Regions from separate parts of the Homo sapiens genome. Here all the other regions are linked to region 1. Evidence: fine-mapped expression QTL. A gene starts in region 1. Each other region holds a variant in brackets. All regions are shown on one strand. Distances are between the middles of the regions. Region 1 holds the start of IRF2 (interferon regulatory factor 2). Region 2 overlaps IRF2 (interferon regulatory factor 2). Region 3 holds the start of MYL12BP2 (MYL12B pseudogene 2).

Evidence for each region. PIP is the estimated chance that this variant, and not a neighbour inherited with it, causes the effect. A credible set is the group of variants that fine-mapping cannot tell apart.
Region 2: its variant is the best candidate, but not a certain one, in a credible set for the expression of IRF2 in monocytes after LPS (Fairfax 2014, PIP 0.84).
Region 3: its variant is the best candidate, but not a certain one, in a credible set for the expression of IRF2 in whole blood (GTEx, PIP 0.88).

Annotation. Positions count from the first base shown.
Region 1 is chr4:184,468,582-184,479,516 of GRCh38, forward strand. IRF2 (interferon regulatory factor 2) reads right to left here and starts at 5,969. Exons shown (of 9, transcript NM_002199.4): 1 at 5,798-5,969. IRF2-DT (IRF2 divergent transcript) reads left to right here and starts at 6,221. Exons shown (of 1, transcript NR_186573.1): 1 at 6,221-8,723. RefSeq lists silencers at 4,228-4,297, 4,358-5,047, 5,128-5,177, 5,988-6,107 and enhancers at 6,138-6,327, 6,678-7,007.
Region 2 is chr4:184,393,310-184,404,244 of GRCh38, forward strand. It overlaps IRF2 (interferon regulatory factor 2), which reads right to left. Exons shown (of 9, transcript NM_002199.4): 7 at 5,606-5,770. Among named protein-coding and RNA genes, the nearest start is that of LINC02362, 16 kb to the left of the region's middle. RefSeq lists a silencer at 143-318 and an enhancer at 2,129-2,338. The variant C/CA (reference allele first, on the strand shown) is at 5,346.
Region 3 is chr4:184,312,139-184,323,073 of GRCh38, forward strand. MYL12BP2 (MYL12B pseudogene 2) reads right to left here and starts at 2,191. Exons shown (of 3, transcript XM_047416561.1): 1 at 2,167-2,191; 2 at 1,822-2,010. The coding sequence starts at 2,191. RefSeq lists enhancers at 1,682-2,183, 2,102-2,371, 2,502-2,661, 5,344-5,843, 7,231-7,530. The variant C/T (reference allele first, on the strand shown) is at 5,109.

The sequences.
Region 1 (10,935 bases):
GAGTGACCACAGGCCCCTGTCCGAAGTGCTTTTTAAAATGTGGAAAGAGGTTTCATCTGAGCCAAGGAAAAGATCAACTATTTGGCCCTGGGAAGAGATCCTCGATTCAGTGGCTTTCCATTTCTACTCTGGCCACACACCTGAGGGAGGCTGGGGAGCAGGGATCCAATGGTGAATAAGAGGCTCGCTATCAAGGCAGGAAGGGGAAGGAAGGGAAAGGGGGCTACAGATAGTCTCAAATCTAAAAGGTCCCGTGTAATTTCTAAAAGTCCCCTCCCCAGGTGATTTTCACAACACACACAGGTTCTGTCTCCTGAGGATGACAGAATTATCCAGCCACATTTTACAGTGAAAACTTCCAAAGGAGGAAGTGATTGGAGAACTAAAAGGCCACTCTAGGCATCTGAGTTCATGCACCTTCCACCGCAGAGCCTTGTACACAGCTGGCTGTCAAGAAATATTTAATAAACAAATGAAATAATAACACAATGTGTGCATTTAAGAAAACCATTGCATGTGTTACTACATTTAACAAAATCAATTATTCATTTAAAATAATTGCATGGGGTCCCTGGATCCCCAAGCAGACCAAGTTATTGATGGAGGGTCCCGGCTAGTTTCAGTGCCTCAGAAAGCCTAACGGGATGGTGAGTTTCTCTCACACGGAGCCGGCCAGCCTGTCCAACACACCACGGGTCTCTACCTTTGGCTATAATGAGTTCAGTGAGATTTGATGATACCAGTTTTCTCAAGGCAATCAGGAGTTCTGACTGGAAGTCATATGTGTTTCTGAGGAATAAAAATGGGCACTAGGGCCGGGTGCAGTGGCTCACGCCTATAATCCCAGCACTTTGGGATGCTGAGGAGGGAGGATCATTTGAGGCCAAGGGTTTGAGACCAGTCTGGGCAACATAGCGAGACCCCGTCTCTACACAAAAATGTATGTCGGGCTTTGGGGTGGCACATGCCTGTTGTCCCAGCTACTCAGGAGACTGAGGCAGGAGGATCACTTGTGCCCAGGAGTTTGAGCCTGTAGTGAGCTATGATCGAGCCACCGCACTCCAGCCTGGTGGACAGAGTGAGACTTTGACTCTAATAAAAGAAAAAGGATACATGAAGTCTACTTAAATAAACACAATTTGTTTCAGAGACAGTTTGTCATAAGATGGAGCTTCTGAGGGGGAAAATTATTTTTAGGGGATCTTTGAAGGTCAATGCCAAGACTTCAGGCCTGCTGCTTGCTCTGAATCCAACGAGCCTCAGACGGAGTCCCAGGGACAAAGGGGACCTGTGAGCTGTGTTTCCTGCTTGTGTGTTTTCCTTGGTACTCTATAAAAAATACTGTCTTCATGTTCAAATCTGGACCCTATATGTTATTCATCATTCTTTGTTCTTTGTTGATAAATTAAAGTTTGATGGAACTTCCTCACCCACTTTTCCATCAGTCACTCCCGCCACCAGAGCCACTCCTCAATTCAGCACACTGTGCATGAAGCTGGCATCGTGCACCGACCACTGATTACACTCAGGCCAAACACAGGGGGCCGACGGGGCAGGCAGAGACCGAAGGTCCTGACCTCCTACCCCTGTGCAGGAAGGAACATCATGTCTCATACAGATGAAAAGAAGAACTAATTTTTACTAATAATAACTGACATTTCACCGCAGTTTCGTTTATTTGCATATATTACGTATTGTAATATATGTTATAAATATATGCTATCAGTTAATATTTACTTTCATGTATGTTGTCACATATACAGTGTTGGGCACACAGTAAGCATTCAATAAATGCACATGAGCCAAGATGGTAAAGCAGGCCGGCGCAGTGGCTCATGCCTGTAATCCCAGAACTTCAGAAGGCTGAGGTGGGCAGATCACCTGAGGTCAGGAGTTCGAGACAAGCCTGGCCAGCATGCTGAAACCCCGTCTCTACTAAAAATACAAAAATTAGCCAGGCATGGTAGCGCACGCCTGCGCACACCTGTAGTCCCAACTACTCGGGAAGCTGAAGCACAGGAATTGCTTGAACCTGGAAGCAGAGGTTGCGGTGAGCTGAAAGTGTGCCACTGTACACCAGTCTGGGCAACAGAGCAAGACTCTGCCTCAAAAAAAAAAAAAAAGAAAAGAAAAAAAAGGTGGTAAAAGCAAAATACTACAATCAGCCCAGTGCACACCTGCAATGACAGATAATGAAGAAGTTGACACGAGAGTGAAGAAGATTCAGACTAAAGCACAGAGAGGCTTGGGAAGATTTTCTTATCTGACATAAAGAGGGAAAATACATTGGTCCAATCACTGTTATTTCCATATCATTTGGTCTCCATGGATACCACCTAACTTTCCTTCTGACAGGAAAAAATTCACTGACAATATCGGATTCCACTGTGAAATTTTTTTGATACTTTATATAAAAGTTATTCCATGTTTAATCTTTTATCATTATTTATATATGCTCAGAAGTAAAATCCCTCCTTGCTGGAAATTCTATGAGAAAGATAGTGTCTAATCCAGTCATGATTATCTGGCCTTTTTACACTAAGAATAATCTGATATAATTTTGAAAGTTAATGCCTTACACATTTGTAGACTGCCATAATTTATGCAATGTTCTTTCATATACAGTATCTCAATTGTTCATGAAAGCAACACTTACGAGATATAGTTAAAAATTATTATTATCCTCCTTACAGCTAACCCCAAAAGGTAATAACTATATTTTTTGTTGTTAATGGTCAGCTCACTCACCAGAACACAACCTAGTGTAAAGATGCTGTCTTTCTCGCTGTCAGTTGAGTATACAGAGGCTAGCACTGTGTCTGGCTTATAATAGATGTTCTAAGGATATTTATTGAGTGTGTACATAAATTCTCTTGTCTGCGTTAAGCCCTTTTTGGTATAAGGCAGATAAGGGAACTATAACCCAGATACTCCATTTAGATAGAGTACAGTGGTTTTTCACTATCAAAAGGATATTATGTGAAAATGCTCTAAAAACAACAGTTTTGTACGAGATGATGTTAAGAATAAAAATATAACATCGTTGGTAACATGAGAAAATTGATGCACATCAAATGTGGAGCATCCAAAGTGTCTATTTTTCCAGTAAGTTTAAACATCTTTTGCTCTGGTGCACTATTTGCCTAATAAAGTGTTTCAGAAAGTGGGATAAAAGTGGGACCATTGTTCATAAGGCTGTCAGAACTTCATGGCACGCATGTGTTTGCCATAATTTGCTTCCAGTTTGACTACAGATCCTTACTTTTGATTATGCTGACATTTTTACAGGTAAGTAAATCTGAAATAACTGGAACTTTCTCTAACAAAAAAATGACAACTCACTGAGAATGAAATATGTAAATGTTTAATTTTAACAAGCAGTTACAAATCGTAACAGACAAGAACTCTTGGATCTAAGAGACCAAAATGTAATTTCTTACATAACAGACAAAGTTACAAGTTATAATCGTTCACTAATTACAGTGAAATTCCGGACTTTGACACATCAATCAATAGATGTTCCAACGTTCCCCCTAGAGATCCCAGTTCAAGTCTTAAATATTTCATCTGCTGAAGTTTCCTCAGAAAAGGCTCCTTTTCCCAGGATTTTTTAGGTTTCTACTTTTGCCCCTTCTCCCACTAAAAGAAGAATAAAGGAAAGTTGGGGAAATCAGAGAATCCTGAATCTGCGTGCGTGGTGAAGTTAAACAGAGTCACCCTCTGGGCCTGGTAGGGATAACTGCATCTGCCTAGCATCAAGACTATCCACCGCCTGGTCTAACCCCAGACCCCGTTGTGCACCTGCCCTTAAGCACCAAAAACTGAACTGCTCAAAGAGAACCTGCAGTCGATATGAAAACTAGTAAATGACTGCAGGCTTGACAGCAGTCTCGGTGATGCCTGAAAATCCACAACAGGAAATCTAACTATCCTCCATACCTCCTGGCCATTCATCAAAAGCAGACCGAGTCACAGCCATAAGGAGGCCGGTGGCTGAAGACGAATGCCAGCACCACTTTTCCTCATTTAGAACAACTGAGTTTTTTCCTTCCATAACCAAGGACAAGGAGCAACCGGAGGGAGGAGGTTGAAGAGGGAGGGGGCGGGCAATATGTCCCCAAGTTTCAGACAGTAGCGGGTCAGAAACGAGCGAAAGCCACCTCGCTCTTCTGAGCTACCTCGGCCGCCAGTCCCCGGGATCACATCCGCAGCCGAGCGCCAAGGGTCCGGCCTACACAGACTGACCCGGGCGTTTCACCTGGTGCCCGACCACGGCTCTGGCGCCCTGCCCAGGCTGCCCGCCTCCTTCCCCTCCCCCGCTTCTTAGGGAACAAGGAGGAGAGGGTGGCAAACGCACCCAGACCGGGGGCCAAGGGGAGACGCCGGCGCGTGCTGGGAGGGGCATGAGTTACACCCGCGACCCTTGGAACTTGGAACGGCTTCCCCAGCCCCGGCGGACGCCGGCCCCCAGGCCGTGCCACTGGGAGCAGGCGGGCGCCGCGATTGGCCGCGGCCGGCTTCACTCGGTGGGCGAGCCCTACCGGCGAGGCGGAAAGGAAGTGGCGGCCGCCGCGGCTTTGCACCAACCATGTTCGGCCAGCGGGCGAATGTCACCCGGCGCCCGGAGCCGGGTCGGAGGGCACGGGGCGGGCACTCGCGTCCCCACCCCGCCGCGGCCCGCGCCCCGGGACCCCGAGGGGACGCCGGCCCCCACTGCGCCGCTCGGTCCCCGGAGGCTCCCCGCCCCCACCTCGCCCGCTCCGTAGCCGAGGCGGGTCAGGCCCAGCGCGCGAGGCCGGCCGGGGGCGCCTGCGGGGACCCGGGGGCGCACGGCGCTAGGCCGCGGCCCGGGCGGCTGACCCCTCGGCACGGTGCCTTCCTGGGACGCGCCGCCCGAGCCCCTGGCGCGCTGGGACAAGTGCAATGACAAAGCCCCAGGGCCCGACCGGGCGCTGGCCGGCGGGAAGGAGGACGCGGCGTCCCTTCTGAGCGGCGGCGGCGGCGGCCCAGCCCCCAGGAAGCAGGGCGCGTCGGCCAGGCCCGGCGCCCGGCCCGGCTCCGAGCCCGCCCTCCCGCCCCGGCCGCTGGCACCCGACGCCCGCGACCCGACCCCGAGCCCGGCAGGCAGGCGAGCCCCTGGACCGCCGCGGGGCGCCCCAGCAAGTTTCCTCTGGCCGTGGCTGGAGGCGCTCCTCCCGGCCGGGGAGCGGTGCCTGCTTATTTACGCTGGAGGCAGCCTGGAGAGGCGCCGCCGCGGGCACCGAGAAGGACCCGCTCCCCTCCTTCGGATCCGGTGGCGGCGGTGGCTGCACACACACACACGCGCGCACACACAAACACGCACATACACACAATTTTGTTTTAAATGAGGCCCGACTCCAGCTGACCTGCACCCCCACACACAACACCTGGGGCGCAGAAGCACACACAGCAGGTCTGTGTCCATGGAGCCACCTCTCCGCATCTGCAAATCCAAAAGTGAAATTAAACCTCCACCAACCTCCTCCTCCTCCTCCCTCTCTACCTCCTCCTCCTCCTCCTCCTCGCAGCCTCAGCAGCCCCAGTAGCAGCAGCAACAGCAGCAGAACCTGCTTCCCCTAAAATCAGATGATCCATAATTGCGCCGACTGTTCCTCCAAAAATCAGTATTAATATTTATGAACCCCGGCATTTTCCGTCTGCAAAACATCGTGTCAAGGCATCAGGACACGCATACACACACGGCCCCCCACAGTCCCCAGAAACATGCCCTCGAGAGAAACACACACAGTCACAACTATTATTTGAAAAATGTTACCTCTCAGTGTGCTTTTTTCACGCTACCAATACAATTCCGCAAGGTATAAGTGTTGCTAGGGTATGTGAAATGGAAATGAAAGCCCGTCAGTTGAATAATCGCAGGAGCAAAACTAAAAGTTACTCCCCGGCTTGCCTGAGAACAGTCCAGATCGAAAGCAAAACAAGGAGAGGAAACTGCGAAGAGCCGCGGCTGGAAATCCCCCCACCCCCCGCCCTCCTCCGGCCGCGCTCCCTCCCTCGCCTCCCCTCTCCGCCCTCCTCCCTCCGCCCTTCCTCCCCAGTGTTTGTTTCAAGCTTGTGCAACCGGGAGGTGGAGGCGGAGGGAGGGCGCGAGCGGCCCGGCCGGGAGGTGCGGAAGTTCGCCGCAGCAGCTCATTGGCGGGCAGCGCCGCTTTCATCATTTCTCGGAAAAGTCAATTTCATTTTCGCTTCCCCAGGTCGCGGCGGCGGGAGCAACAAGCAGCGGCTCGTGAGTCCGCGGCTCGCACCCAGGGGCGCCCGCACGTGCGGCTAGAACGTCCGAGTCGGGGTCCGGGGCGGGGGGCGCAGGCCCGCGGCGGTAGGGGAGGAGAGCGGGCACCCGAGTCTCCATCCTCAGGGTGGCCTGAAGGTTCCAGGAGGGCGTCCGGCGAAGGCACGGGGCTGCGACCATCCAGTTAGCAGGGCTGGTGTGACTGTTGAGAGTAAATGAAAATTCGTTTTGTGACACCGACCACCTCCAAGGAATGAAAGGAGCAGTCAGCCGAAACGACAGCATTACTTGCGTCCTTACCTAATTGGAACCTTATCCGTGGCTGAGGGTGCCACCATTGGAGGGGCCGCCGCCCCCTCTGACACCACCTGGCGCTCCGCTCCATTTAGGAGCTAGAACGAAAAGGAGGCCCATCCCCCAGTAAGTCACAGCCCACGCCAAGATGAGTTCTGGAGCCTGTGCGACCGAAGTTTCTTCACCGCAGGGCGAGGTGGACAAGGGTGTGAGTTACTTTGACTTCAAGACGTCTCAGTGGCGGCTGGTTCTGGAGAGAGGCTTTATGCTGGAGCACTTCCAGCAAAGTTCGGCTGGGGCCTCCTTAACTCACTGGCTGGTCACCCTTGGCCTCGGTTTTCAACCAAAGCCTAAGGCCTCAGTTTTCAACGCTGTAAATGGAAATAAATGAGAGAAGAAAGTACAGCCCGTGTGACAAGTGCAGCAAGCAATGCAACTTCCTTGGGACCTACCCTTTGTGGTCCCTTGCTTTAAAAGTATAGATTCACATTTAGTTAGACCTGTTTCTTCCTCGCATGCAATTTCACCAGTCTTTTCCCAGACTTCTGTACTCAACAGAGGAAGTTCCTTCCTGGGAGACCATAGCTGTTTGTATGTAAAGAGTTGCGAAAAAACAAAAGCAAAACAAAAAACTCCAACACCTCTCTGTCACAGAAGTATTGAATTATATAGACTGGAAAAATGGAAGTATCCAAGAAAACGCGTGTGGTAAGAAAATGGCTAAGGTGCAGGATTCTGTTTTGTGGCTCTGGTCTCAGAAATAGACCTCACATACACATTATTCCTTATCCCCTCTATTATAATACTCACTTTTTTTTTTTTTTAAGAGACAGGGTAGGCCGGGTGCAGTGGCTCATGCCTGTAATCCCAGCATTTTGGGAGGCCAAGGCAGGAGGATCACCTGAGGTCGGGAGTTTGTGACCAGCCTGACCAACATGGAGAAACTCCATCTCTACTAAAAATACAAAATTAGCCAGGTTTGGTGGCGCATGCCTCTAATCCCAGCTACTTGGGAGGCTGAGGCAGGAGAATTGCTTGAACCCAGGAGGCGCAGGTTGTGGTGAGCCGAGATTGTGCCATTGCACTCCAGCCTGGGCAACAAGAGCGAAACTCTGTCTCAAAAAAAAAAAAAAAAAAAAAAGAGAGGGTCTTGCTCTGTCACTCAGGTTGTGCTATCATAGCTTACTGTAACCTTGAACTCCTGGCCTTAAGCGATCCTCCTGCTTCAACCTCCCAAGTAGCTGGGACTACAGGCCTGTGACAGTGCCTGGCCCAGGCACTGACTTTCTTATGTCATATAGCAATGACCACTAAGGGAAAGTCTATACAAACTATAGAATAGTTGTCATTCTTTACCCAACCCGGGACACAAGTTAAAAACCTAGTATTCATTTTTTTTTTCCTGTACCAAAACAATCATCTTCCTTTATTTTTCCTGGAGCGGGAAGAGGAGAGTGGAGAAGAAGGGAAGAATGCAAAGTGTCACTTTGAACTTCTCGTTCACCACACACGTGGGAGTCCACTCATGTCAGCAGCCTCCGTGCACAGGCCCCAGGTGAAAGAAAGAATGAGGTCTAGTTGGACCAGCTAACACTGCCTGCCTTGTGTTTACGAAAGGCAGCTGCCTCTGTGGTGTGATTTCAGGGGAGCCAGACAGGGCCGGGGCCACGAACCTGCATCCTGCATCCTAAGCACCTATTGCCATGCGTGAGGCTAACTGGAAACTCACTTGCTGGGTGCAGATAGCTTCCAAACTATTGTGATGCTCATGCTTGACTTCCCAAGGAACGTGTTTCAGGAAAGGCCATTGCCCTCATTATGGTCTTTGATAAGCAGGAAGAAGTTTGTTGTTCCTTTTTTTTCTTAATGCCCTACTTCGTGCAACATACATCCAATCAGTCATATCCTATTGACGCTACCCCTAAATATCTCTGGGCCTGGCCCGTGCTCAGGGCACTGCCTTCATTCAGTTACTGCACTTGCCTGCTGCCTGTGCTCCTGGTCTCCTGCTTGGACTCCCCCAGGCCAGCAGCCACACTACTGCCAAAATCCAGTCGAAAATTAACTTCAGGTAAAGCACAATTCCAAACCTAACACTGCCCCCCTCAAAAGCCTCTCTGTAGCCTTCAGAATAAAGACCATATTATTTGACAAGACACATAAAGTCCATTGTAATCTGGCACCAAACGACCTTTCCAGCCTCATCTCCTGCCATTGTGTCCCACAAGCCCTACATCCCTCCCTTGCCAAACCAGCCTCCGCTCCTTTTTGTCAAACAACAGAGCTGTCCTCTTGTTCATTGTTTTATCTTTAGCATGGTGCCCAGCACACAGGCACTGAAATACTTGTGAATTAATAATTACTTGCTCTTTTCATCAGGCTCTCATAAAATATTTTAGACTTGATCAGAGCCTTGTTTTATATTTTAATAGCTTTTTAATATAAATGTAATTAATGTTTCTTGTACAGAATTTGGAAGATGCAAGAATGGTGAGAGAAGAACATAAGCCACCTGACATCTCACTAGTCAGGAATAGACCTGTGGATATTTTTATGTATTTCCTTCTAGTGATCTTTCTAAGGGACCGTTTCCAATCCGCATCTCCTCTGTCTGTGTGTAGGATTTAAGAATGCTGACTGTGCAGGCTGCTCTCCACGATGCCCATGTGACAGCCTGCTGTCCTATTCTAGTTCTTGGCCGGTTCCTCGTCTGCTGCCAGCCCCCTAAATTATGGTGTTTCCAGGCATTCTATCCTCAACCCTCTTATTTTCTCATTCTACATGCTTTATCTTTGGGTGTTCTCCTCCACGCCCAGGGCTTCAGATATCACTATTTGCTGATGACTCCAAAATCTGTAACTTCTGAGCTCTGACCACATTAACTCCTACACATGTCTCAGGTGCAACAAATTATACATGTCCCAAGTCAGAGAGAACATCTTTTCCACAGCCTTGCACTGTTCACTTCATTGATTAGCTGGGAAACTGGGAGGACTCACAGACTGCCCCCTTTCCTGAGTCCTGGGGCCTCCCTGAAGCATGGGTGTTGCTTGCAATTTTCCAGGCCCCTAAACTCATAAAACATAGACAGAATGAATTTCTGTTCTTAGGCCCTTGATGACATGTCACTGCAAACCAAAAATGTACAAATGAACCAAAACAGCCACATGGTACTGATATACACAGTCAAGAAGTATCTTAGCCCTTTGATGAGATGCATATAGTAATAAATCTCTGTGGAAACTCCAGCCTTTTTGGAAGCCTGGGTAAGAAAGTAGGCTCAGTGGCTCACGCCTGTAATCCCAGCACTTTGGGAGGCCGAAGCGGGTGGATCATGAGGTCAGGAGATCGAGAACATCCTGGCTAACACGGTGAAAACCCGTCTCTACTAAAAATACAAAAATTAGCCGGGCGTGGTGGTGGGCGCCTGTAGTCCCAGCTACTCGGGAAGCTGAGGCAGGAGAACGACATGAACCCGGGAGGTGGAGCTTGCAGTGAGCCGAGATCACACCACTGCACTCCAGCCTGGGCGACAGAGCCAGAGCGAGACTCCATCTCAAAAAAAAAAAAAAAAAAAAAGAGTAACCTTTGTCATACTGAGGAAATCTGACCAAACACTTCAGTCTAACGTGAAAAAAGTTGAAGGGTCTTTTATAGTGAAACTAGAGTCATCTCCTGGATGAAGCATGTTTGTATTTCACCTGTGGGATGGAATATCCTAAAAGATCTGCCTGGCTGCCTCAGGACTCATTTCTTTTCAGGGGAGTCGGGTGCAGACAATATTACTTGAGCACAATAGTGCCGGATCTCTCCTTGAGTGGATCTTAACTAAGGAAGAAATGTAAAGACACATTCAAAGTTGACCCCTTTCAAATGGGTTTTTAACTTAGTTTCCTAAAATTGAAACAAAGTTTCATAAAATGATCATTCAAATAAAATCTGTTGAGTGCTCAGGAACATTTCCCAGCACTAGGGATACAGCAGTGAACCAAATGAATGAAAGTGCCAGCCTTCTAAGACGTTTTCTTACAGTCTTGTAGGTTGACATGTTGATTTCCACTGTGGCATCCCAGTAATGGCACCGACATCATCTCCACCTGTAATCACAGCCTTCAGAACTGTACATGCAACTTAGGAATGTGTAACATGAAGGCATATAAATGAAAACCTAAGTATTTATAGCTATGATTTAATCAGGAGCCCCAGGTCTGCAAGCAGATGCTCAGTTTTCTCCCCAGAATCACTGGGACCACTTCTGTCTTGGCCACTGGAGCTCCCCTCCAAGGTGCTGCAATTCAGGAGGTTAGAAAGTCATGGAAAACGAGGGTTCCACCCTTGCCAGAACAGTTGCCAATACAAAAGCCACAGAT
Region 2 (10,935 bases), 75 kb before region 1:
GCTTTCTTTGTGCTCCAAAGCCAAGCTTTCTCTTCCTTTCATACGGGTTCAGATGCTCTTCACTCCTAATGACTCTCCATAAATATCACTGTCTTCTTTTCCTTTCCCCTCCAAATACAAACAAAGATACGCAACCAAGCATGCTTTGGGGGCTGGGATTCCAGCACAGCCCCAGTCGCAGGTGCAGGAGGGGCTGGAAGTCAGATCCTGGGGTAAGGCTCCCGGGTAAGACCTTGCACCGCCCATGAATGTGACCGGGATGCTAACTTCCTTTAAGTACCCAGTTTTCAGCTTCGGGGAAATAGCTGCAGATAAGAAAAGATACACATGCTCCGAACTTATGTTTTCAGCTGACACAAATGCGAGTTAAAGAGCGTCGTGTCTAGATTAAGTTCCACAGCATCTGAAGTCGTCAGGAAGATGCGCCCTATTAGGACACTGACAGTTTCAAAAAGGGGCCTTCAGTACCTTAGCTTAGGAGCAGAGAACCCTGAACCTCCCCCTGAGGGGAGCAGTTCTCTCTGTGACCCCAGAATCGGTGGCTCCAAGTGCTTTGTTGGATGCACTGCGCCCCGTGTCCTCTGTTTCCTTGGTTTGACCACCATTGCCACTTCCACGCTGACTTCTTACACAAGGGAGCTGACTGCAGCTGGGCCTCCAGATCAGTGTTACTATCGAACTATCAACATACGTTGTCATTTCATTTTCCCTTTTGATTAGTTTGAATTTGTTTTTGCTTTTTGTTTATTACTTACTTCGAATACAATGGAATAAAGAAGTCTGGAGTTGCTTCTCCAGCAACTCCAAACAAATGAAGAAGCTGAAGGTGTTCGTACAGTACCAACAGGCACATGAGTAATTCACTTAACCTTTCTGGTCTCAGTTTTCCTGAAAGCATCTAGGGTGGGAGGGAAGGGGAGGATTTGGATTAGATGATCTCAAAAGCTCTTCCAGTTCTAGGGTGACACTGGTTGTAGGTTCACTCTCTATCCAGTCCAGTTTTTAACGCCTCGCTGAGGATATACATATTGTCTAAGCAGGAACACTGCGGGAAGGGAGAGGATGCATTTTCACCTGAAAGGCTTTTTGCACTCTGACATTCTGCTACACTTTCTGGAAGGCTCTTGTTCAGCAAGTTTGATTTGAATTTCTTTCTATTGATCATATTCTCAATTACTTTCACCAGGAGTAAATTATTTTCAAATCGGAATCCTCTTAATCTCAAAGCGATTGTGTCTTTGCTCTGCCCAACAAAATGCAAGCCTGGTGTGGTTTCCCGAAGGATTCAAAGCCTTTACTGATGGCTGCTGGTCAGCAGGCGATCTCCACTCTCTCATTATAGCCAGTGAGTCCTTCAGATGATGTTTTCTTCTCGAGTCTACTCTCCAGCCCCTCTTACCCATCCTCCCCCACCCCATTATTCTACTGTGGTTTTCTTCTACTAAACCATCAACCACCTAATAAAATTCTGATGCCACAGATCAGGCAAGGGGTCACTTTGTAATGCACCTTTAAACATGACATGTCTCTCCGCCAGAGCTTCCCAAAGTGGCACTTTGAAATGTCCCTCCCTAGTATGAAAGTTTCACAAATCACACTAGAATTTTATGTTGTCTTAAAACATCCAACGCAAGTACTATCTCTTCTCTTTCTCATCATAATATTTAGACCACAGAGGAGAAGACAGACTTGCAAAACTGAATGTGGTTTTGTAATATACTACTGGGATTATGATTCAACGATCAGTAGGGGGAAAAACTAGCAAACAGCAGCCTCCAAATACCAGTTTCCCAAACAGATGAATAAAGGTGGTCAGAGCATGCCGGGCGCGGTGGCTCACGCCTGGAATCCCAGCACTTTGGGAGGCCGAAGCGGGTGGATCACGAGGTCAGGAGATCGAGACCATCCTGGCTAACACGGTGAAACCCCGTCTCTACTAAAAATACAAAAAAAATTAGCCGGGCTTGGTTGTGGGTGCCTGTAGTCCCAGCTACTCGGGAGGCTGAGGCAGGAGAATGGCGTGAACCCGGGAGGTGGAGCTTGCAGTGAGCCGAGATCGCACCACTGCACTCCAGCCTGGGCGACAGAGCGAGACTCCGTCTCAAAAAAAAAAAAAAAAAAAAAAAGGTGGTCAGAGGAGATTGAAATTCAGATGAACAGCCCAAACAAAGGAACTCCATCATGAAAAACAGGCAAATGGCCGACTCTACTGGAGAACATAAAGCAAGAAAGGTGAATACACGCAGAAAGCTGCCTTTCCTGACAGCATGTTATACAATTTCTGACGGAGGAACTAAAATTAGCTACAGTCAGTAGCAGGGAAATGTTTTACACCACTGTGAGCTCTAGAACATCAGCAGCGATGGAACATTTTGCCTCCAACCAGTAAGCCTCCCTCCACGAGGTTCTGGAGAATCCAGACAATGAAAACAACGGAAAGAACCAAAGGCCAGGCTGAAAAGCCAGGCTCCAGCAAAACCTCCTGTTGACTGCCATCCTGGCACTGAAATCCTTCCTTTCAAACCTATGCAAATGTCCTGAAGAGAGTAATGAAATGTTCATTTCTCTCTGCATGGATCTGCTGTTCTCCGGAATCTTTTGCTTGAGCAAATGCCACTGCTGGCAGAACAGCAAGAAGAGGTCTTTCCAGAATCCCCAAGAAGACCTCAGAAAAGTCTTACTCAACAGATAAACATAGAAGTCTATTCTAAAGCTCCAACCCCCTAAAAAAAGAAGAGAGAAAGAAAACCACATGGAGTGTAACGATGCCTGCAGCAGCAGGCTATAGAAGAAAGTCATGGGTTTTTAGCCATAACTATGTAAATATAAGCAAAGTGGCTGAGTGTTTCACGCTTCGGTTAGCTCTACTGTAAAATTTAGGCATAAACATTCTGCTCTGCCTCCTTTGGTGGGTCCTTGTGAAAATCAAATGAGATCACGGGATGTGGCTGTGTTCTGAACGGCAGAGCCCGTGCGCTGTCCAGGGCAGCGACACAGGGCGGGCGTTAAGGACCGGCCTTTGGCATCAACGGCTCATGGGTTCTAGCTGTGCTCCCAATCGTTCCTCCCTCAGACACGCTGCTCTACCCACGCCAGCCGCAGATCCATATATATATATTTTTTTTTCTTTTTTTTTTTTTTTAAGACAGGATCTCGCTCTGTCACCCAGGCTGGAGTGCAATGGTGCAACCAGGGCTCAATGAAGCCTTGAACTCCTGGGCTCAAGGGGATGCTCCTGCCTCAGCCTTCCAAGTGGCTGGGACTACGGGCACATGCCACCACACCCGGTTAACTTTTTTTATTTTTTGTAGAAGTGTGGTCTCACTATGTTGCCCAGGCTGGTCTCCAATTTCCGGGCTCAAGTGATCCTCCCACTTCAGCCTTCCAGTGCAGGGATTACAGACGTGAGCCACCACACCCAGCCAGATTCCTCACTTTTAAAAACGGGATGATGACGATACCCAGGCTGACAGGGTTACTCTAATTATAATTAAACAAGTCAACTGTATCATACCAGGCATGGCAGCTCATGCCCGTAATCCCAGCACTTTGGGAGGCTGAGGCGAGCAGATCACTTGAGCCCAGGAGTTCTAGACCAACCTGGGCAGCAAGGCAGAACCCTATTTCTATTAACAACAACAACAAACAACAACAACAACAGTCAACTGTACCCAAGCACTGAGCATGGTTCCCAGGGCACAATAAATTTGCAAAACATAGTAGTTCTTGTGACTGCACTCTGGCAAGGACCAAACAGGGACTGGCACGTGTAAGAGTCCAAAACGCATTTGCTGAATAAAGCACCGAAGACAAGCTTATCCTGTTTGACAGATTATAATCTTCCTGTGGCCAAGGTCTATTCTCACATTCCACTTACGCTCCTAGCATAAATGCACACTAGGACCTATGCTAAGTGAAATAAGCCAGTCACAAAACAACAAGCACTATGATTCCACTCATAGGAGGTACCTAGAATAGCCAAATTCACTGAGATAGAAAATAGGCAGGAGGTTGCCAGGGGCTGGGGTGGAGGAGGGAAAAGAGGACTTAGTGTTTAATGCAGACAGAGTTTCAGTTTCGCAAGATGAAAAACGTTCTGGAGGTGGATGCTGGTGATGGCTGCGACAACATTAATGCACTGAATGCTACTAAACTGTGTACCTAAAAATGGCTAAAATGGTAAATTTTATGTTAATGTATTTTACCACAATTTTTAAAAGTGAAAAAAAAAAGAAAGTTGGCATTCAGGGAAAATGAGATTAGACTTAGTGGCTGATAATTCACAAACAACAGTCCTTTGAGTCAACTCTAATTCCAACGCTGGTCGGAGCCAGTGTTGGGGGTGGCACCTACTGGAGGACATCCCATTTGGCAGCGTGTAAAGAGCACAGGGAAGAATCCCTGAACTATTTGCTAGAGCTGAACTGCAGTTTCCCAGGATGGGGACTCTGCTTTTTATTTTTAATATCTGCAAGCAGTAACACTGACTCAGAATTTATATTTCCTAATTACAATTGATTTCCACAAAATTCAATGGAGATCATCAGGAAGAGAGGAGAAGATGAAGTAATGTTGGCGAACGAGAGGAGCCATCCTTTTACTCTGGAAGAATGGAAGAACCAACTGGATCTGTTCCTCCCCCTGTGACTCTGCCTGGGCCAACTCCTGTCATTATGTAGCCAAGTCCCTGGAGAATTGGAAATGGCTCAGTCATCTGGCCTAATTAGAACCTGTACTAGATATAAAAAGAAAGAGAAAATATGTGGAAAGGACAAGTACGCTTGGTGGATGGAATGGATCTAGCAATGAGCTTGGGGTCTGAAGGCTGAGGTCAAGTCCTGGCCCAAACACTTGCTGACTGTACGACCCTGCGCAAGCCCCTTCCCTTTCAGAAATGAAGGAACAGGAAGAGATCATCTCTAAGGTCCTATCCAGCCTGCTCAAACTGAGAATCCATTAAAACACTCTGCCAAATTTCTAATAACTTGGGCTAATAAATTAGACTCTGATGAACTACTGCCCTAAAGAAATCTTATCTGTAACCATATATAAAAATGTTATGGGAGGCCAGGCACTGTGGGTCACACCTGTAATTCCAGCACTTTGGGAGGCCAAGGTGGGCGGATCACCTGACGTCAGGAGCTCGAGACCAGCCTGGCCAACATGGTGAATCCCCGTCTCTACTAAAAATACAAAAATTAGCTGGCATGGTGGTGTGCGCCTGTAATCCCAGCTACTCAGGAGGCTGAGGCAGAAGAATCTCTTGAACCTGGGAGGCGGAGGTTACAGTGAGCCGAGATCATCCCACTGCACTCCAGCCTGGGAGACAGAGCGAGACTCTGTCT[C/CA]AAAAAAAAAAAAAATAAATAAATAAATAAAAAATGTCATGGCCAACTGAGTAAAGAAATGCTGTGATCCTGTCCTCTACCTGAGAACAAAAGTGTCCAAGAAGATGTTGATCAAGATAATTAAAGTATGAAAAACTCCAGGGAGAATAACTCCTAGGACAGAGGAGGGATGCTCCGTGGGGTGGTGAGATGGGTGACCCTAGACCAAAGGACTGCGCGGCCGGTTCCCACGCCTCCCGGAGCCTCCCGCTGACGCTTACCTGCATAGGAAGACACGGGGGAGATCTGCAGAGGGTAGAGCTCGCTCATGCTGACCGGCTGCTCGTCGCTCTCAGTGGTCACCTCTACAACTTGGCAAATGTCTGGCGGATTGGTGACAATCTCTTGATTCTCAATGTTGCTGTCCAGATGGGACTGTCCTACAACTTCAAAGAAAAGACAGCCATCATGCAAAGTCTGCTGACCTCACAATTCTAGCACACTTTCTCAAGAAAGAGTCTTCCCCAAAAGAGCCAGGTCGCCAGGCTCCCATCACCATCTGTCCCCTGCCATGGGGCTGAAGAACACGCCTGAGCTCTGTAGCTCTGGTGTGATGTCTCCCAGGGAGCAGCCGGCCAGCACTTGGCTCCCCAGGTCTATCTCCAGCATGCCTGCCAATGGCACGCACGGTGGCCATGTCCTTTCCAGCTCAGCAGAATTCCACAGTCAACCCCGTCACAGCCGAGGCCACAGGACCAGAGGCGGCATCCAGCCCCAGCCCCAGGGCCAGACATGACAGTACTTTGAACCTGACCGATTTCTGCTCCCTGCTCTTGCTCCAAAAGAAGGCGCTGTGCTTATTTTCTGGGTTCTACAATCCAGGGAGACATTATCAAACCTTACTAAAGAGGAAGGGCCATGAAAATCTACCCAATTGTGTCACATCTAGCTGTGTGAATGTTTGTGTTCAGGTTTTGTATGAACATAAGTTTCCATTTCTCTGGGATAAATGCCCAAGGTCCCCATCTAGCTGGGTGGCGCTCTGCTTACGCTCCCAGCTCTCTTCCTGCTCTACAGGCAACATGTCCAACTGGCTGAAATATCAGCACAATGGAATAGAGTCAGATCTCCAATTCTGGCAAACATTAGTAGCATCAGCTCCCCGGAACACTGATAAGATGGATTCTGACCACCCTGGCTCTGAAAACTGCCTCAAATATTTTTCTTATATTGTTTATTTTGAGATCATTGTAAACTCACATACAGTTGTAAGAAATAATACAGAGAGATCCTGTGTGCCTTTTACTCAACTTCTTCCAATGGTTATAGGCTACAAAGCTAGAATACAATATCGCAACCAGAGTATTGACATAAATAACAATCCACCCATCTTGTTCCGATTTCCTCAGTTTTACTTGCACTCTTTTGTGTGAGTGTGTACCTGCACCAGGACTAAGTGCAATTTTATCACACATAAAGGTTCATGTACCTACCACCACTGTCAAAACACCAAACAGTTCCATCACGACCAATCTCTCTCACGTTACTCTTTGTAACCATAGCCACCTTCCTTCAGTACCTCCCCATCCATCTCTTTGTCCATGACCCCTGGGCAACTATTAATCTGTTCCCCATTTCATTAATTTGTTCATTTCAAGGATGTTATATTAATGGACTCATACAGTAGACTTTTGGGGCTGGCTTTTTTTTTACTCAGCATAATTCACCGCAGAGTCACCCAAGTTGTTGTGTGTATCAGTCATCGGTTCCTTTTCAATTGCCGAGTAGTATTCCACGGTATAGGTGTACCAGTGTGTTTATTCTCCCCTCTGAAGGATGTCTGAGTTGCTACAAGCCTTTGACTATTACAAATAATGCTGCTATGGATGTTTGTGTTCAGGTTTTGTATGAATATAAGTTTCCATTTCTCTGGGATAAATGCCCAAGAATGCAATTGCTGAGTCATATGGTAATTTCATGTTTAATTTTACAAGAAAATTGCCAAACTGCTTCCCGGAGTGACCGTGCCATTTTACATTCCCACCAGCAGTGTCTGAGTGATCAAATTTCTCCACAGCCTCGGCAGCATTTCGTGTCATCACTGTTTATTTATTTTGGCCATTCTCATAGGTAAGTCATGATGTTTCATGGCCATTTTAATTTGAAGGTCCCTAAGGTCCTGCCCTCATTTTGAATGAAACTGACCTCATACCACTGTTAGTTGGATGAAATGTCCCTGAAAATTAGCTTCAATAAATAAAGGTGAAGAAATAATTCCCAAGGTCCTCAAAGCACTTTGCCACCATCATCAACGTTTTACTCATACCTGTATCTGTTATTTTAACATTTTAACCCATAAGGATGACAGAGAAAGCATCGTTATCCTGTTATAGATGAAGAAACTCAGGCACAGAGAGGGAGAGTGACTTGTCCAGACTCGCACAGCTTGGAGTATATGTGGTGCTCTATGTTGCAGTCATTTTCTCACCAATCGGCAAAGTATTCAGGTTAGAACGCATTCCAGTCTCCTTGAGACGCCAGGCGTCATGGAGAGGCTCGTTTTAATCACTCCAAGTATTTTATTTTCTGAAGTATTTTTGTTTATAAACAGGTTCCTGTTTTAATTGCTGTCTGTGGAGTGACAAGCACATTATCTGATTTCTACGCAGGGAAGGTTTTAGAGGGCAGTGGCAATTCATAGGTTCTTTAATAAAGAAAGGAAAGGCACAAAAGAGGCTCAGAAAGGGGATTTGGGGCTGTGATACAAGAGTCCAAAAGCCACAGCATACAGAATGGAAGGGAAACCGGATCCTGTTTAGGTTTTCCTGGTGGGGATAAAATTAAAGAAAAGGCAGGCAGGCTATATATGGCAGGCAGACTCCCAAGCCCATTTATTTCATCCTTTGGATTATCCTACGTGAGGGTGAGGACATCAATTATGCAGGTCACTAGACACAGACTGACGCTGACCTACACCAACCTCTCTCTAGTTTCCTCTGCCTCTTCCAGCCAAGTAAAATAAAATGGCAGGAAAACAAGATAATGGCCTGCCCTATCCTAAGTCCTAAGAAGCAGCTGGTGGGTGGAGGTAGAAACCAAATGGGGTGTGAGAGTTTGAGGAGGGAGGGCGCAGCGATACCTTGCATACTAAGGCAGTGAAGGTCTTAGATAAATGTGACTTAAGTCAAAGCCATTTTAACTTCCAATATTTCAAAACTCATCTCTCCTTTGCACGTTGCTCCTAACAGAAAGAGGGCAAGCCAGCTGGGACTACAAACAATGGCAGCAGCTCAAGTATCCCCCTAGTCAGATCCCTTTGTTCCAACCAGGAATTCTTTCTCTCACTGCTTCTCCCCATGACGTCCTAGTCGGTTATTCAACTAACAGAGATTTATGGAACACCTGCTTGCACCTCCCAGCCTCCCAGGGCTAGAAGGAGCAGCGGAAGATCGATGCAGTCAAGGATCCGGTTTGTAAGAAGTTCATATACATGGCTATAGGCCAGCGACTAACCATCTAGAGAGTCAGTTTAAGGCCGTGAGCACTGAAAAGAAAGAAAAGAAAAAGAAGGGGGCCATACAATGGAAGCTAGAGAAGTGGGGTGTTTTTTCCAGTTTGAGGAATCAAAGGCTTCAATGAGGTAGTGGCACAGGAGTGGGGGTTGAGCAACAGGCAGCATTCACCATGCCCCTGACTTCTGGAGCCCCTTCCTGACCCGCCAGCACAGACTGGCCTCTCTCCCCTGGGTGCCTCTCACTCACTGTCCCCGTCACTCGGCCGAAACTACGATGGGCCGCGACCTTGTGACACTTCTGACCTCAAGTTGCTGGTTAACGCTATATACCCGTATGGAGCTTTGAGTTGGTCAATGGCATCTCTCCTCAACCAAAGTATGAACTTTTTGTGTCCAGTCATGACACATGCTCACAACTCCCACCGGAGAGGCGCTCAGGGACTCTCCCCTGAATAAATGGACATGTGATGGGGCCGAGGCTCACTGACTGGAGCCAGAGTGGAGTCCTGCAGGGGATTGTGACAATCTGCAAATACGGGACGTGACAATTAATGTTTTCTAGAAAAATGTCAAGACTTCTGACAAGTGGACTCTTGAAACCTTTGGGAAGTGATAAAGACAGCCGGCTGTGGGTGCGAGGGCTGGGGCCAGGGAGGAAACGTGTTGGGGTGATGAAAATGTTCTGTCTTGACTATGGTGGTAGTTACATCACTGAGTGCGTCTGTCAACATTTATAGGACCGTGTGCCTTAAAAGGGGTGAATTTTACCGTATTTCACTTAATATACATGACTTGGGGAAAAAAGTAGATAAGCACGTCCATGCAGATTTTAGGTGTATCCTGAATGCGGCTGACCAGGAGAGAAAAGTCAGTCTGTTTTCTGGGCTATGATCTGGATACCAAGTTAATATAATTACGTTATCTCTCAGGCCAAATTCCCCCATAGGAGTGTGTTGCTTTATGCCCTGGTAAGGGACAATGGCTTCTCTCCATCCAGACATCGTGGGTACTTTAGAAACTTTCCAGCTCTCGAGTGAAAGCCCATGAGAGAAGCAGGGAAATCCCAATATCGAAATGCTCTCAGATGAGCATCAACACTCTCACTAACCAGTCTCTATCTGTTTCTCTCTCTCTCTCTCGACATGTGAACTGATTTCCCTGGACCACCAAGCGGCAAAACAGACAGCAACACTGACTCCTGACAGGTGAAAAGACAGGAATAACAAACTTACCTGCTACAGTAAACAGTCAGAAGTGGCACTCCTCTGGGTACCAAAGAGTGTCCTGACTGAATAATGACAAAACCTGTCTTTCTGAGCACTGATCTTTGCCTCTCCCTACCACCTCCCAAGACCTCACAACCCATGAGGAAGGCACAATAGTGATCCCCATTCTAGACATGCTGAAACAACCATACAAGACAGAACTACATGACTAATTCAAGGTCAGACAGACAATCAGCAGCAGAACCGGGATTCAATGTTAGCCTTACCCAACTCCAAATTTCAACTCTTTATAATATGCTCTCCCTAACAGAGAGAGTTAATGAAGTCCAAACTGAGTTACTGAGGGCTTTCTTAGCCCCTCTCAGGATAAAAACTTTTGAATCTCACCTTAGTGAGTCTCCAGGCTCAGAACTAATAGTGACATTTCTTTTCAACAGTTATCTATTGTGTGCCAGGGAAATTCTCAAACAGAAGAACTAGAAATCCACTAAGTTTCTCCAGTTTATTAAAGTCAGCACATCTGAAAAGAGTCACCCACAGGAATGCAATTTTATCTGAATCTAGTTGCTGAGAATTATAACAATATTATTTATGGCTGGTTACTGATGAACCGGTTTGCTTCTTTAAAAGGTCATTCTCACTTTATTAGCAATTGTTGACTTAATGTAGGTCTCCACCTGAGAAAGCAACTTGCTCCCATGCCTCAGAGAAAGTGCTTAAAAGCAGATTATTAGAAACAGAGGGGTCCTTGGAGGTGGTTTGGTCCTACCATTTTACAGTTGAAAAAAGCTGAAACCCAGAGCTCAGGTAAATTGCTAAGGTCACCCAGGTAGCTGCAGAGTCAAGAATGAAACTTACTAGCAGGCATAAA
Region 3 (10,935 bases), 160 kb before region 1:
AGTGCACAGTTATTGAAAGAAAAATTTGTACTCTGGAGAACAAGGAGGAGACGTAGTTCCTGCACCCAAGGATCTCATGCAATGAGAACACAGAGCAGGAATAAGATAACTCAAAGTGTGTGCATAATGCCAGGTTAGACAGACAGACAGACAGCCAGGCCACTGTGAGTGCAAGTCCCTGTAAACCAAAAAGAAAATTCTAAGGCCCCCAACCATCTGAATGCATGGCCCCTCAGCCAAGGCATTCCAAAGTTAACCTATAAAACTAGTTCAGGTCATGAGGGGAAGGGGGAGCCAGACGTGCGTCTTGATACCCTCCTTCCTTTAGGAATTACTGATAGAACAGCCTCTTGATACCCTCCTTCCTTTAGGAATGACTGATAGAACAGCCTCTTTAAGTCTGAGTAGAAACATTTATGACCTATTCTCTCTGAAGCCTGTTACCTGGAGGCTTCATCGGCATGACAAAACCTTAATCTCTACAACCCCTTACCATCACCCAGACATTCCTTTCTCTTGATTCCAGGTCTTTAGATAATAACTCAATCAACTGCCAGTCAGGAAGTCTTTGAATCTGACTGTGACCTGGAAGCTCCCCCTTCCGGTTGTCCCAACTTTCCAGACCAAAACAATGTACATGTTACATGTATTGATTGATGGCTTATGTCTCCCTAAAATGTATAAAACCAAGTTGTAGGCCCACTACCTTGGGCACATGTGGTCAGGACCTCCCAAGGCTGTGTCCTGGGCATGTTCTTAACCTTGGCAATATACAATCCTAGATTAACTGACACTTGTCTCAGATACTCTTGGGGTTTACACCCCTTACTCAGATGGGGGCAGGCAGTGCCTGGCAGCAATCCCGGGAATCTCCCAAAACCTAGATCTTCAAGTACAAGCTGGTCAAGCAGAAGAGAGAATTGGAAGAAACAGAGGAAACAAAGCACAGTGGACTATTTGTGTACCTTCAAGTAATGTGCTGGGAGAGAAGCTGGGACCAGTCGTGAGGGATCTGGTAAAACCTGCCGAGTCTGGGAACCAATGAATGAACTTATTAGGTGGGTCCTAGAAATTTTTCTCTGGCAAACTGAGGATACATTTCAGGGGGTTATGAATCACCACCAGCATGCTCTCTGCTCTTCATGGACATCAGAAGCTGGGGGAAAGCTTTCTTTGTGAGCCCCCAGCCTCAAGGGCAGGCAGTTCCTGGGCTGAGCCTCACTGGTGAAGCCTTTATGTGTGATGCGGGAACTGCCCACACACCAACTCCTGTTTTGCCCTTTTAATGGGCAGCATATCTCCTCAGAAGATGTGCCGCATGACCATTTTTGAGCCCACACCATCTTCACCCTCCTAGAATCTGCCTCTGATTCTTGGAATTTGGGGAAAACCACAGGTTTTTCATCATTTCTCAAAACTACTAGTTTGCAGCAGCAGTTCTGTGAAGGTGGGGAAGAAGCTGAGGACACCGGTGCCATGTTTCTGTTCTTATTCACATTTCTCTGTTCTCTGAAAGCAAAATAATGCAAAGCTATAAAGACCATCAGGGAGAATCAGAGCACAGACAGGATTCCAAAGGATGGAGGCTGCCCCCGACAAAACCCCTCCCCAAAGTGGGGAGGGGGCAGAGAAGAGGCCCCAAGATGCCAGGTGCTTCCCTCTGCAGCACAAGACACACTATGGGGTCTGCGCAAAGACAAAACATCGATTTGGGTGCAGTCTTCTTGGTCTCATTATTTTTATCATCTCTCAGAGGATGTGTGGTTGTCCCGATTGCTGTGCTCAGGACAGGAAGGGAAAGCAGAGGCTAACATAACTCACCCGGTCTGCAGGACAGAGGAGGAGAGCAGGCTGAAGGCCTATCCACCTCTGCACGCATCAGGCGGCTTCTGCATCCTGAGACACCCTTCCTGAATCGACACTTGGGCCCAGCCTGGCACTGGGCCCCATAGACGCCAATTAGATGGACGTGGTCTCCACACTGCAGGTGTTCACAGTACTCACTTGCTCCTGCAGACCCCAAATGCCAGAGAACTCATTTGCTGACCTTTAGCTGATGACAGGGGCTGGAGTTGACATTTGTATCAACCCACTGCATGCCTCAATGGGTCACCCTTCTGTGAGCAGGTGCTTCAGAGGCACAGCAGGACAGTCCTGGAGGCTCACCACAAAGCAGGGCCACCACACGCATGGGGAGAACTAGAAACCGATGACTTGGAATTTCCCTGCTGTTCTGGGTGGGCTTTGATGGGCTTTGCTCTGACTTCCTCTCTTAGACCTCTGGGCAGTGTTGCTACTGACGCAATAGAAATCAAGCATCCTGTTTCACTCCAGCAGAGGCTGCATTGCAGCAATGAGGGGTGTTTGCCCCATACCCAGAGAGGTGCTTCTGGGGAGCGAAGGCCCATAGCAAATGGGCAGCTAGCACATCAGGCCCAGGAGTCTGCTGCGTTGCAGAAGCTGCTGAAGTGTTGGCCCTGCCCACCTCCCAGGACACCTGTGGGAATGCGGGAATTCCACAAATTATGGATTCTAAGCCCCAGGAGATTTAAAAGGAAGGGAGAGGGAGAGAATGAGAATCGATGCTCTATTATTTGATGAGTTTGTAGGCGAGTGTGTGAGAGCAGAATGTTGAGACAAGACTTTCAACTTCGATGTAAGGAATATCTATTAAGCCCCTGCTGTGTGCCGGGGCTGTGTGTGATGCCTAAAGAACAATTGGCAACAGCCTCTCAAGGTGTGTGTGTGTGTGTGTGTGTGTGTGTGTGTGTGTGTGTGTGTGTTAGCGGCAGGTATATATCACAAGTTCAAAAGGGAGTGTCATAATTGTATTAAAGAGAAAAAACTACCACTGCTGGATTTAGAGTTATGAGATCTGGGTTTGAGTCCTGGTTCTACTTATCAGCTGCTTCCTTGAGTGTCCTCTCTATAGAATAGGGATCATAGCTCTTCCGAACATCACAGGGTTTGGGAAGGTAGAAAAAAGAAAAGGGATGCAAAAACACGTGGGGAAAAGGAACGTGGTTCCACAGCAAGAGTGGGCCCTCGTGTAAACTATGAGCTTTGGGTGATAATGGTGCATCAACATAGGCTCCTCACTTGTAAGGGTCAGACCCCTCCGGTGCCAGATATCGACAGCGGGGAGGCTGTGTGTGTGGGAGCAGCGAGGAACTCCCCGGACTTTCTGCTCAATTTTGCTCCAAACAAAAAATGGCTCTTAAAAAAGAAGTAAATTCAAAAGAAAAAAGATATAAAAATACATAATCCATTTGAAAAAATTACAATCATTAAAAAAGAAAAAAAGGAAAATGGAAAACTACTATAGACATGGTTTGAGTTGATATAAAGCTTTGATAGAAAGGCACAAAGAAAATGGCCTAAGAGTTGAAAGCCCAGTGAAATCACAGCTCACGAGGGGTACTTGAGAGAAACTAGGGGAGAAAGTTTTAAGACACAGTCTCCAGCAGAATGGGCTGTCATGAACCCATGGAGTAAGAATTGGGGTTAGGTCGGGAGGAGAACAGCTGCCTTTTCATATCATCCATCCCTCTGTCAGTCACCCTAGGCAAGAAGCCATCCAGAGAGACTCCGAGGCCAGGGACTGAGTGTGCTCGCACACCTTGCCCTGAACCTGCACTTGTGTCCCTATTTCTGCCTGTGCCGCCATAACAGATACCACAGCAGGGTGGCTTAAACAACACCGGTGCATTCCCTCTCGACTCCGGAGGCTGGAAGTCTAAAATCAAGGTGTGAGCTGGACGGTGCTCCCTCCAAAGCCCTGAAGGGAGGACCCTTTCTCGCCTCCTCCAGTGTGTAGTAGCCCCAGGAGGTCCTTGGCTGTTAGCAGCATTGCCCTCATCTGTCTCACATCTTCTTCCCTCTGTGTCTGTCTCCACATGGCCTTCTTCTCCCTGTGAGCACCTGTGTCCAAATTTCCTCCTCCTCCTCCTCCTCCTCCTTCTTCTTCTTCTTCTCCTTCTTGTTTCTCTTCCTCCTTTTCCTCTTCCTCTTCTTCTTCCTTTTTCTTCTTCCTTTCTCCATTTCCTTCCCTTTCCCCTTCCCCTTCCCCTCCTTCTCCTTCTCCTTCCCCTTCCCCTTCCCCTCCTTCTCCTTCTCCTTCTCCTTCTTCTTCTTCTCCTTCTTCTTGTTCATCTTCTTGTTTTTAGAGTGGGGTTCTCACTCTGTGGCCCAGGCTGAAGTGCAATGGCACAATCATAGCTCACTGCAGCCTCAAACCCCTGGGCTCCAGCAATCCTCCTGCTTCAGCCTCCTGAGTAGCTGGGACCACAGGCATAAGCCAGCCACCATACCCTGGTAATTAAAAAAAAATTTTTTTTAATTGTAAAGATGCAGTCTCACTATGTTGCCTAAGCTGGTCTCAAACTCCTGACCTCAAGCAAACTTCCTGTCTTGGCCTCCCAAAATGTTAGGACTACAGGCGTGAGCCATCATGCCTAGCCAAATTTCCCTTTTCTTACAAGGACAATAGTCTTTTGGATGAAGGCCCACCTTAATGACCTCATCTTAATTTGGTTACATCTGTAAAGACTCAATTTCCAAATAGGCCACATCCATAGGTACTTCAACCTATCTTTTAGGGGGATAAAATTCAACCCATAACAGTGGACTAGAGTAGTTCATCCCCTCACCTTGTCCCTGAGTGCCAGGCAGAGAGGAAAACCCTGGTTTAGAATTCTGAGACCTGCATTTGTATCTGAGTCTTACTAGCTGCATGACCTCGGACAAGTTACCCAAACAGTGAGCCCCAGATTCCACATCTATAACAGAGATCGTAATGCCTACAACACCTTCTCCCCACCGTTGATGTGAAGATTCCATGAGACGGTGTTAGTGGATCACTTTGTAAACGCTAAAACTCCAGGCAAACATCTATTGTCATTTCTTCAAACGAAGGGCCCGGCTTCAACCACGTGTGTCTACAAAAAAAGGGGGCAAGTTTCCATCAATACTCTAATTACAACCAATTGCATGCATTTCCCGTCTGCCCACATGGGAAGTTAAACCCCTCAAAGCACCTTTCTATTATTTCTGGGGGTTCCCCTGGGCTGTGTCACACGTGTTCTGGAATAGGTTCCCACGTACCTGAG[C/T]GTCTGCTCTTCTTCCCCGCTCCTGAGCGACCAGGACTGCCTTCCCAGCTGTTGGCACTCCCAAGATGACCACTGTTCTGGTGCCACTGAGTCCCCTGACTTAGGCCTTGCAGAAGGAGCACGCGCTCCCCACCTTCTCCTCTGCTCCACCTCATTCCTCTCCGCACCCAGCTTAAGCTGGGCTATAACCTTTAACCAGGCATTGTTTGAAGTGTCAGCAGAAGGGACGCTCAAAACAGGGGGACTTGGGGCTGCTACTGCTGCCGCTCAGTCAGGCCCCCCGAGCTTGCCTCCCTGGAGCAGGGCCTGCCCCACCAGGGTGCTGTGAGCACACCTGCCCCCGACCATGCAGGGCAGCCCTCCAGAGACTCGGTGAGAGAAGGAGCTCCTCCACCCATGGGAGGCAAACTCTGCCTCCCTGTTCCTCAGTTCCTGTCCTAGGACAGGCCACTTTCCAGAAGGACCGGCAGTGGGAATTCCCACTCCATTCGGGGAAGTCCCCATCCCTTACCCAGAGGCCTGCAGCATTGCTTCCTGACCCCAAGCCACAGGATTCCACTTGCACATAATAGTCCAGAGGCTGCAAATCAGGCACACAGACCTGTTTCATTTGGGTCATGCAGTTTAAAAAATATATATGAATTGTTATCAATATTCCCATTGAGATAGTTTACACTTAAAATATCACAATTTGGCCAGGCGCAGTGACTCACTCCTGTAATCCCAGCACTTTGGGAGGCCGAGACGGGTGGATCGCAAGGACAGGAGATCGAGACCATCCTGGCTAACACAGTGAAACCCCGTCTCTACTAAAAATACAAAAAATTAGCTGAGCGTGGTGGCGGGCGCCTGTAGTCCCAGCTACTCGGGAGGCTGAGGCAGGAGAATGGCGTGAACCCGGGAGGCAGAGCTTGCAGTGAGCCAAGATCATGCCACTGCACTCCAGCCTGGGCGACAGAGTGAGACTCTGCCTCAATAAAAAAGTAAAAATTTCTGTCTTCTCTTGAAAACAACATTTAGCCTCTGGATTTGCATGTCAGTCACCAGCTCAAGCTCTGTAGCAGCTCGCTATAGTTGGAATGTGTGTCCCTCCACATCTCAGGTTGAAATGTGATCCCCGGTGTTGAAGGTGGGGCCTGGTGGGAGGTGTTTGGGTCATGGGGGTCCCGTGGGGGTCCCATGGGGGTCATGGGGATCCCTCATGAATGGCTTGGTGCCCTCCTCATGGTAATGAATGCATTCTTGCTCCATTAGTTCCCAAGAGAGCTGGTTGTTAAAATGACCCTGGCGCCTCCCCACACGCTTGCTTGCTCTTGCCATGCCATCTCTGCCATCTCTGCTCACACGGCTCCCCTCCACTTTCCACCCTGAGTGGAAGCAGAGCAAGGCCCTCACTAGAAGCAGAGGCCTGATCATGAACTTTCCAACCATCAGAATCGTGAGCCAAATAAACCATTTTATATATATATATATATATATAAAAATTGCCCAGCCTCAGGTATTCCTTTACAGTAACACAAAATGGCTTAAGACACAGCTCCTTCCTCTAAATGGAGCCCATGTTTTCCTATTTGCCAGATGCCCATGGTCTCTTTTAGTCCTGTGTATCGCCTTCCCAGCCCCTGCAGCCATCTGAATTGGTGGGACCATGCTCCTACAGTGGGCCTCATAGGTCCACTCCACAGAGCGCTGGGCCAGAGCTCGTTCTGGTGCCATTCTCTCCTCCAGCTTGGTGCAGCGATTCTGTCTCTGTGTCCTTCCTGCACAATGCTGTCGTGAGCTTTCCAGCTCCTAGAAACACCTGCACAAAGAAGAATACAGCCTCACAGCAAGAAGAACCGGCAGGTTAAGTGCAGGCTGCACGGCAGGTTGCAGCAGAACTCACCCTCAATCCATGTGGGGCCGGGAATCATTCCTTCCCACTTTGTGCCACCTTCTATCAGCACCATAAAAAAACTGGTGGAGACAGGGTCCTTGCACAACAAGCAAGTTCAATTGCCATCTAGTTAATGGTAAGGACCCAGTCAAGCAGGAACAGTCTGCCCCAAAGGTAAATTTCAGTTTAATCTCTTTTAGGAAGCCCCTGGTTGCAATTTTTAAGGAGTCAATTTTCTAGAAATTTTTCCATAAAATTATTTTTTTAACCTTATAATTTGGGCACCTATTAACATCATGTCGCTGGTGTTTCGATAGACCCAAGGTGGAACATGATAACAGATAGAAACCAAAACTTTACAGGCAGATAGTCATAAACGAAATGATGGTGGGAGGGCTGGGGAATTTCCATAGCACTAGAACCTCTGACACACTGTGGGCATAAAAGAGACCATGAAAGAAGTCACACATATTGAATTTCTCTTTGCATAGAGGCACAAATGCATCTCTCTTGTTTGACCTTGAAATATTAAAAGAACCACAAAAAGGTATCTGCTTTGGGAAATCCCTCATGCCCCAGTACTGAGAAGGGCAGGTGGACTCAGTCACAGGGCTGTGTCCCTTTAGGTCTATTGACCTCAGCAGGGTTGTAGGGAGAGGTGCCTCTCCCTCATTTTTTTTTCTAATATCCTCCCCTCATTGCTTCCTCACTCAGCCTACCTCCCCAGTTACACAGCCAATGCAACCTTGGCCCATTTAACCAAAATGTTGCCAATGTTATGGGACAGCAAATGAACACAGAGAATTCCGAATTTTCTGCCCTAGAAGATACAGCTTTTGGCCAGGTGTGGTGGCTCACACCTGTAATCCCAGCACTTCGGGGGGCCGAGGTGGGCAGATCACCTGAGGTCAGGAGTTCGACACCAGCCTGGGCAACATGGTGAAACCCTGTCTCTACTAAAAATACAAAAACTAGCTGGGCGTGGTGGCACGTGCCTGTAGTCCCAGCTACTCGGGAGGCTGAGGCAGGAGCACAGCTTTTCCGTCTTCTGTGTAGGTTCCCCACATTTCCTCCAAGATCCTGGGGCCATACTTAACTCCTACCACCTAGAATCCTTTTCATTCCTGTCCCATTTGGGAGTTCTGGTCCTCATTCCTGTCTGAGGACATGTCATCTGATATAATTCCTAGCAGGAAAGTCCATCCATGTCAAAGACCACACATGCACATATGGACCTAGGCCTTAATATTCAGCCTACAACAAGATGGTCAACTCTAGCAACAAAGCCCAGCTATTTGCAGCGAGAACACACACCTCCAACAATGTCAGACCTGACCCATGCACTAAAAAGGATAAATTCTGCCCAGGTGGATGGGCTAGTCTAAGCTTTCTCGTAAATGGGGGCCTGACGTGGCTACTGGCTTCCTAACATCTGAAGCACTTTTATCAGCTAATTCAACTAAACTTTGCAAAGCTCCTCTTAAAGCCATACTCCCTGGTGTCAATGGACTATTCAGAGAAGAAAACAGTAGCGTTTATGGGGTGAGGACTTGGGTTCAAGTTCTTCTCTGCAACTTAAATTCTCTACAGCTCACTTCCCTCTCTTGTCTGATCCATTAATACCTAGTCCTATAAATAGTCCTATAAATTTGCACACAAACTTAGTTATTAACCAGCACCGAGGCTGCATGGGGTTTCGTAAGATGACTTACAGTGATTACTTACACGTGAGTTGAGCATAAACATCCGCCTGGAACATTCAGTCCGCGCCTCTGCAGCACGGCTGTCAACTCTAATAAATGTTTCCAGCATTAAAAAGCTTGTTTCTTATGGTGTCAAGAGAATAAAGCCAATTGGTGGTGAATCAGAAATATCTAGGGGGAGGTCTTTTGGAGAATCATGAATAAATATGACAAAAAGAAATCCATTTTAATTTGTATTAATTACTGAATAATTTCCTGTAGCATAATTGTTAAATTATTAATGAATACCATGAATTGTTTATTTTATTATGAAATAATTCTTTTTAATATACTTATTAATCTATCAGTGATAATTATTAATTAACTTACCATATGGATTAATTAATGCATAATGATGAAGTAGGTTGAGAAGGGCTGTAGCAAAAGATGGAACAAAACCAGGGGGATAAGCAAGAAAAGAACTCTGCTATGTCATGGGGCTTCCAGAAAATCAGATGAAAACATTCTGCAACTGGAAAAGTACATGTTCTCTTCTGTAATATGTCCTCTGCATAAATGTTTTAAAACTTCAAGTCGCCTTACCTGATCTTTTGTTTTTTTTTTTTTTTGAGACAGAGTCTCACTCTGTCGCCCAGACTGGAGTGCAGTGGCACTATCTCAGCTCACTACAACCTCCACCTCCAAGGTTCAAGCGATTCTCCTGCCTCAGCCTCCCATAGTCAGCTGGGATTACAGGCATCTGCCACCACACTTGGCTAATTTTTGTATTTTTAGAAGATACAGGGTTTTGCCACGTTGGCTAGGCTGGTCTCAAACTCCTGACCTCAGGTGAGACACCCACCATGGCCTCCCAAAGTGCTGGGACTGCAGGCATGAGCCACCGCACCTGGCTGTCCTACCTGATTTTTAAGGAGTAAGTAATCATTTGTGTAGATTTTAGTTTTTTGTTTGTTTGTTTTTATTTTTTTTAAAAAGTATAACATTTGGCCAGGTGCGGTGGCTCATGCCTGTAATCCCAGCACTTTGGGAAGCCGAGGTGGGTGGATCACAAGGTCAAGAGACCAAGACCATCCTGGCCAATATGGTGAAACCCTGTCACTACTAAAAATACAAAAATTAGCTGGGCGTGGTGGTGCACACCTGTAGCCCCAGCTACTTGGGAGGCTGAGGCAGGAGAATCATTTGAACCCGAGAGGCGGAGGTTGCAGTGAGCCGAGATCATGCCATTGCACTCCAGCCTGGTGACAGAGCGAGACAGCGTCTAAAAAAAAATTATATATATATATATATATATATATACACACACACACACACACACACATAATATTTAATATGTCAACAAGATTTTTAGATTTTTTTCTTTCTTTTAACTTTTATTTTAGGTTCAGGGGTGCATATGCAGGTTTGTTATGTAGGTAACTTACGTGTCATGGGAGTTTGGTGTACAGATTATTCCACAGCCCAGGTCATAAGAATAGTACCTGACAGGTAGTTTTTCGATCCTCACCCTCCTCTCTCCCTCCACCCTCCAGAAGGCCCTGGTGTCTGCTGTTCTCTTCTTTGAGTCCTTGTGTACTCAATGTTTATCTCCCACTTATAAGGGAGAATATGTGGTGTCTGGTTTTGTTTCTGTGTTAGTTGGTTCACGTAGGATAATGGTCTCCAGCTTCATCCATGTTGCTGCAAAGGACATAATCTCTTTCTTTTTTATGGCTGTATAGTGCTCCATGGTGTGTATGTATCACATTTTAGATTTCTTATTTTAAAAAAATTCAATGCCCCCAAAATGTAATCACCTACAAACATTTCACCAGGTGAAAACTTTCTCATCCCACAAACTTTAGGCCATGGACAGTATGCTTTTCCAGAATCTAGGGAAAAGTTAAAGCCCTGGGCACAAGGTAAATTCACTTAGAATTTCAGGGTAGATACTGATTTTTATTAGGCTCTTGTGCCACTCACAGAAATGCCACATGCTCTTAGTCATCAGCCTCACACTAATACCTGTATACCACATCCTATTCAACAGAAAGGAATATCCACTTTAACACCCATCAGGAAAAAAAAAATGCTCTTTTTAAAATAAATCACTGACAATTTTCTCAAATAAAATGTCGGATCAAAAAATAAATGCAGGCCAGTCATGGCAGCTCATGCCTGTAATCCCAGCACTTTGGGAGGCCAAGACAGGTGAGTCACAAGGTCAGGAGTTCAAGACCAGCCTGGCCAACATGGTGAAACCCCGTCT